Homo sapiens: one gene and its partner. The protein of the gene in region 2 purifies or fractionates together with the protein of the main gene of each other region. This does not show direct contact. Each region holds a gene or a part of one and is shown on either strand. Other genes may lie near its edges. The genes, in order: ZMPSTE24 and ADCK5.

Region 1 (3,041 bases), on a different chromosome or scaffold from region 2:
GTTAAACATCCCTAACCAAAAACTTGAAATCTGAAATGTTCCAAAATCTGAAACTTTTGAGTGCTGACATGAGACTCAAAAGTCATGCTCAGGCCGGGTGTGGTGCCTCACACCTGTAATCCCAGCACTTTTGGGAAGCTGAGGCAGGTGGATCACCTGAGGTCAGGAGTTCGAGACCAACCTGGCCAACATGGTGAAACCCTGTCTCTAGTAAAAATACAAAAATTAGCTGGGCGTGGTGATGGGTGCCTGTAGTCCCAGCTATTCAGGAGGCTGAGGCAGGAGAATTGCTTGAACCCGGGAGGCGGAGGTTGCAGTGAGCCAAGATGACACCCCTGCACTCCAGCCTGGGAGACAGAGCGAGACTCCATCTTAAAAAAAAAAAAAAAAAAAGAGTTTTAAGATAATACATCTCAGTTCTCTGCCAAATTTATTTTTGTTTATGTGGACAATGCTATATGAATATGATCTATGCCCCTCCATTTTTCTTTCCTGGTGTCCCCACCATACATAATAGAAAAATATAATTCATTTAGCTCATCTTAACTCTACAATCTATCCCAAGAAAGAATTCTTCTGAATGGAGATACCTCAAGATCTTCAATATTATTTCTTAGCTTAATTTGGAAGCCTTACCAAACATCATGAAATGATGCCATTGTCAGGTTTGTTATATAGTCTCACATTAACCTATGTATTATCACTCACACGGAATACCCCTAATGAGCTAACACAGAGCAATGTTCTTAAGTTTCATTTACCACAAAATACCCGATTTTGATTTTGTGGGTTTGGGTGGATCCCTCAGGCTATATGGAGGCAGGTGGTCATGGAGCAGAGGAACAGTCACTAAGCCTCCCTTACTGAGCTGTACCAATTAGTGTTTGCTTTGTCCCCTCATACACATAAGATTTTTACCCAAGCACTGGTGAATATGTGGCCTAGGACACAACATTCCAATAGTTAATCTCCATCTACCGAGTCCTTTTAGGTGTTCACCACTGAAGTCTAGTTTTCTACTTATACTTTCCTAAGAGTATGCAAACGTTTATTTATTTGGGCTTGAATTTTTCTGCTACTTTGTCATACTGACCAGTGAATCAGGGGACTAAAAGACTTTGTTTCATCTATTTGTTAAAACTGTACTGTTCTATTTCCTTTTTCACTATCCTGAAAGCTCTAGATTTGAAGCAGGCAAGAGCATATGTGTGATAATTTTAAAGATCATACATTACCTCATTGTAAGGTGAAAAAATAAACTGGAAGATGATCAATAGTCCAATAAGAGTGGGTTGGCTATCATAAAAACCAAATGCAGCAAAAAGCTCCTTTCGACCAATTAATACAGCAAATAAAAAAAAACACAGGAAAGAATTCATCTAGAAAGAAGGACATGAAATTTCTAAGTTATTACCAAGCTGATTTCACTATGGGATCAGTAGCATCCATAAAGTATAAGAAATCACAGTGTGGCCGGGCGCGGTGGCTCACGCCTGTAATCCCAGCACTTTGGGAGGCCAAGGCGGGTGGATCACGAGGTCAGGAGATTGAGACCATCCTGGCTAACATGGTGAAACCCCGTCTCTACTAAAAATGCAGAAAAAATTAGCCGGACGTGGTGGCGGATGCCTGTAGTCCCAGCTACTCGGGAGGCTGAGGCAGGAGAATGGCGTGAACCCGGGAGGCGGAGCTTGCAGTGAGCTGAAATGGCGCCACTGCACTCCAGCCTGGGCAACAGAGTGAGACTCCATCTCAAAAAAAAAAAAAAAAAAAAAAAAAAAATTCATAGTGTGATTTTAAGAAAGGTATTAGTGTGATCACAGAACAAATTATTTAAGTAGCTTTTTTTGAGACAGATCTCACTCTGTCGCCCAGGGTGGAGCTCAGTGGCACGATCTCGGCTCACTGCAAGCTCCGCCTCCCATGTTCACGCCATTCCCCTGCCTCAGCCTCCCGAGTAGCTGGGACTACAGGCGCCCCCCACCATGCCCGGCTAATTTTTTGTATTTTTAGAAGAGACGGGGTTTCACTGTGTTAGCCAGGATGGTCTCAATCTCCTGACCTCAGATGATCCACCCACCTGGGCCTCCCAAAGTGCTGGGATTACAGGCATGAACCATACTGCCCCGCCAGTAGTTTTTAGTTTCACTTTTATTTCAAAAGTAAAATAAAATGTTCCCAAATGTATAAACTGTATCATTTTCTATAAGGGCAAGCTTAAGTTGAGGCTCCTATCATTGAGGGTTTGAAGTGGTCAATAGCAATGGGATATTTTCTCTCTGTAAAAGGGTGAAGGGCTAGAATGGATTCTGGCCTTGTTTTATAACACTGTAATCAGATACAACGCCTCCCACCTGACTTTGAAGCGGAGGCTCCAAAGAAACAGGCTTCCCTTGAATCCTCTCTAGGCCCACTGGAGCTGTACCAGATAGTTAGAAAGGTCAGGGGGAAAAGTAGATCCATCTTGATCAATAAATGAGAGGAGAAAAAAATAAAAAATCTATACCAAAATACAACCTCTTGGAGTAAGGTTGGAGAACACACAACATTCTTTTTCTGTGCAAATTAGGATCTTGGAGGCCACATGTACCTTATTTAAGTGTGTTGCTTCAAACCATTTGACCCAAACGAGATGACCCAAGAAGCTGTCAGCTTAGAATGGGGCTTAGAGCATAAGAAGGCTCACCAGCTGCCCCAGGACAAGCAGCTTCGACACTCATCCTTATAACTCAGTGGATCCAATATGACAAGCTCCAACAGAAAACTCAGTGAAGTCTCCTACACTTATAATCTATGCATCCACTTTTGTCAAGTAACCATTGTCCTTTTGAAAAATAACTTTTGGTTTGCTACTGGGCCCTACTACAGACTGAATTCCTGGCCATGGGATACTGTGATCCTGCAAACTGAACTATCCCTTCTGAACTGGGTGCTATGTTAATCTGTTAATCTGCCTAGCCAGGAAACTGCTATGCGCAGAAGCACTTCATCATCAAGGACAAGTGGTAGATATAAGAGTGGAAATGAAGCAAGTTATGAAG
Region 2 (3,819 bases):
CCACTGTGCCCCGCCCCAGCCCACTGCTGAACAAGGCAGCCCCCATATACCTTCACAGCCACGCTGGTGCCATCGTGCAGCTTGGCTCTGTGCACCTGTGCCAGGCTGGCGGCAGCAATTGGCTGGTAGTCAAACTCCTGGAAGAGCTCGTGGGGGAGGGCCTGGAAGTCCTCAAGGAACAACTCATCCACCTGGAAGGACAGGTGCTCAGAGCAGCCTGGGGCCACTGCTGGAGGCCCCACCTCCCTCGGCCTGAGCGCACACTCACCTCCTGGAAGCCCCGCTTGAGGGCCCTGTCCTCTAGCACGCGCAGGGTCCGGGTATACTCGGGGGGAAGCAGGTGGTTGAAGGAGCACAGCCCCTGGCCCAGCTTCACGTAGAGGCCCCCGTTGCTGATGGCCCCTGCCACCAGGGCATCAGCCGCCCGCTGGTGACACGCAGACATCACCTCCAAGTAGCCTGGGCTGTTCTGACCACAGGCATGGGGAGAACACATGGGGACAGGTGGCTGCCTCCTCAGTCCCACCCAGCCCACCACCTCATGCCCACCACTGTGTGCCCAGGGCACCAGGACAAACCTCTTCCACCCCTCGAAGGACAACATTGGTGCACCACCAGTAGTCCAGGGAGATCTGCAGGCCGACCTTCAGAGACCTGCGGGCAGAGGTGGCCTCAGTCTCCAGCGGGGCAGGCTCGGGGCCCCGGTGCTTGGTCCTCTTGTCAGAGCCCTCATGGTCTAGCCTCACCCCGGCCAGCCCTTCATGTCCCAAGGGTGAGGCCAAGCCAGGGTCCAGCCTACAGCCGCGTAGGCCTGTGTGAGCACAAGGGGTGCTGCTGAGCTCGTGGGGTGTCCTGTGGCCCTGCAGGTCAGTCTCAGCTCAAGATCAGTAGAACGGGGCCAGGTGTGGTGGCTCATGTCAATTATCCCATCACATTGGGAGGCTGTGCTGGGAGGATCACTTGAGCTCAGGAGTTCGAGACTGGCCTGGGCAACATGTTGAAACCCTGTCTCTACCAAAAATGCAAAAAAATTAGGCAGGCACGGTGGTGCACACCTGTGGTCCCAGCTCCTCAGGAAGCTGAGGCAGGAGGATCGTTTGAGCCTAGGAGGTGGAGACTGCAGTAAGCTGAGATTGCACCACTGCACCCCAGCCTGGGCAACAGAGCGAGACTCCGTCCAAAAAAGATCTGCAGAGCTGGGCACAGTGGCTCACGCCTGTAATCCCAGCACTTTGGGAGGCCGAGGTGAGTGGATCACCAGAGGTCAGGAGTTCAAGACCAGCCTGGCCAACATGGTGAAACCCCATTTCTACTTAAAATACAAAAAAATTAGCCGGGTGTGGTGGTGCACACCTGTAATCCCAGCTACTCGGGAGACTGAGGCAGGAGAATTGCTTGAACCCGAGAGGCAGAGGTTGCAGTGAGCCAAGATCGCGCCATTGCACTCCAGCCTGGGCAACAAGAGCGAAACTCGGTTTCAAAAAAAAAAAAAAGAGGCTGGGCTTGGTAGCTCACACCTATGATCCCAGCACTTTGGGAGGCCGAGGCGGGCAGATCACAAAGTCAAGAGATTGAGGCCATCCTGACCAACATGGTGAAACCTAGTCTCTACTAAAAATACAAAAATTAGCTGGGCATGGTGGTGCGTGCCTGTAGTGCCAGCTACTCAGGAGGCTGAGGCAGGAGAATCACTTGAAGTCAGGAGGCGGGTTTCGGTGAGCTAAAATTGCGCCACTGCACTCCAGCCTGGCGACAGAGCGAGACTCCGTCTCAAAAAACAAAAAAAGATCTGCAGAATGGGCAGCCTGTGTCCATGCCACCCTCACTCCCTGCCACCCTCAAGGGTGCCCAGGTGAGATGGGGTAGGGGACAGTATGGACGGTGGCATCCTCTGGAGAGATGGGGTTCCAAGGCTGTCTGTGAAGGTAAAGGATGGCAGCAAGGGGGCAGGGCTGAGGCAGCAGAGGTCACAGGAGGGTCAAGGTCACCTGCAGCCTGAGGTCCACTAGGAAGAGAGGAGGACACCAGGAGGGTGGGTCTCCAAGGCCTGGGGAGGCAAGGTCTGCAGGGAAGAGAGCCCAGTTAAGGCAGGAAGTGGGGGACATCCTGGGTATCTGTTGAGCAGGTACTGGGCTCCTGGGGGAGATTTAGGCAAGAGGATGGGGTAGAGGGGTGTCCCCAGGCCTGGCCCCAGTTAGGAGGATATCAGGGTGGGAGCCCTGGGAGAACTCTGGGGACCAGCTGGGCAGCCCTGGAATGAGGCGCCAGGCAGCGGGCAGACCACACACAGGTGCACAGGGAGGGGCTGAGGTCAGAGTGGCTTCTCCAAGGCTGGCCATGGCCAGAGGCCTGTCCCTGCGTTCTGTGAAGCTCACGTACCTGCCTGGGGACAGGGCCCACAGTCATTCCTGAAGCGCAGCTCTGGCGCTCAGGTGGACTCTGTGTCCCCCATCAACCCAGGGCGACCCCCCGGCCATTCAGGCCCCACTCTGGCCCCCGTAGAGCATCTGGAGTGCGTGCTTGGGTTAGGCCAGGGTTTCGGTTTCTTTTTTTTTTTTTTTGGAGACGGAGTCTCGCTCTGTCGCCCAGGCTGGAGTGTGGTGGCGATCTTGGCTCACTGCAGGCTCCGCCTCCCAGGTTCACGCCGTTCTCCTGCCTCAGCCTCCAGAGTAGCTGGGACTACAGGCGCCCAACACCACGCCCGGCTAATTTTTTTGTATTTTTAGTAGAGATGGGGTTTCACCGTGTTGGCCAGGATGGTCTCGATCTCCCGACCTCGTGATCCGCCCACCTTGGCCTCCCAAAGTGCTGGGATTACAGGCGTGAGCCACCGTGCCCGGCTCTAACTTTTCTACTATTAAAATTTGTTATAGTAAACACAACACTTTTGTAACAAAACTTAAAGATGTGAAAAAGTCCCACAGACTTGTGCTTGGGGGAGAAGGAATTTAATTTTTTTTTTTTTTTTGAGATGGAATCTCGCTCTGTCGCCCAGACTGGAGTGCAGTGGCACAGTCTAGGCTCACTGCAACCTCCGCCTCCCAGGTTCAAGCAATTCTCCCGCCTCAGCCTCCCGAGGAGCTGGGACTACAGGTGCCCACCACATGCCCAGCTAATTTTTCTATCTTTAGTAGAGATGGGGTTTCTCCACGTTGGTCAGGCTGGTCTCGAACTCCTGACCTCGTGATCCGCCCTCCTCGGCCTCCCAAAGCATTTTCACATTGCATTTCACATTGCCTCACAGAGCATTTTCAACATTGCTGTATGTTTGAAGTTTTTCACAAAATGTTGGAGGCCGGGTGTGGTGGCTCACACCTATAATCCCAGCACTTTGGGAGGCCAAGGCGGGCGGATCCCCTGAGGTCAGGAGTTCAAGACCAGTCTGACCAACACAGAGAAACCCGCCTCTACTAAAAAATACAAAATTAGCTGGGTGTGGTGGCGTGTGCCTGTAATCCCCAGCTACTAAGGAGGCTGAGGCAGGAGAATCGCTTGAATCCAGGAGGTGGAGGTTGCAGTGAGCGGAGATCCCACCATTGCACTCCAGCCTGGGCAACAAGAGTGAAACTCTGTCTCAAAAAAAAAAAAAAGTATCAATGAGTGCTAAACTGCTGGGTGGAGGCCAGGCGCAGTGGCTCATGCCTATAATCCCAGCACTTTGGGAGGCTGAGACAGATGGATCACTTAAGGTCAGGAATTCAAGACCAGCTTGGCCAACATGGAGAAACCCCATCTCTACTAAAAATTAAAAAAAAATTAGCTGGGTGTGGTGGCAGGTGTCTGTAATCCCAGCTACTGGGGAGACTGGGGCTGGGAGAA

Evidence for each region.
Region 1: the proteins of ADCK5 (region 2) and ZMPSTE24 purify together in Homo sapiens (affinity purification with mass spectrometry; one large-scale study listed by BioGRID and IntAct). This does not show direct contact.

The regions. Positions count from the first base shown.
Region 1 is NC_000001.11:40,289,192-40,292,232, reverse strand, and holds part of ZMPSTE24 (CAAX prenyl protease 1 homolog), read right to left. Parts: intron 1,380-3,041; coding exon 1,236-1,379; intron 1-1,235. UniProt on the Homo sapiens protein: Transmembrane metalloprotease whose catalytic activity is critical for processing lamin A/LMNA on the inner nuclear membrane and clearing clogged translocons on the endoplasmic reticulum.
Region 2 is NC_000008.11:144,387,506-144,391,324, reverse strand, and holds part of ADCK5 (uncharacterized aarF domain-containing protein kinase 5), read right to left. Parts: intron 2,063-3,819; exon of another isoform or gene 1,989-2,062; intron 655-1,988; coding exon 579-654; intron 470-578; coding exon 269-469; intron 192-268; coding exon 51-191; intron 1-50. UniProt on the Homo sapiens protein: The function of this protein is not yet clear. It is not known if it has protein kinase activity and what type of substrate it would phosphorylate (Ser, Thr or Tyr).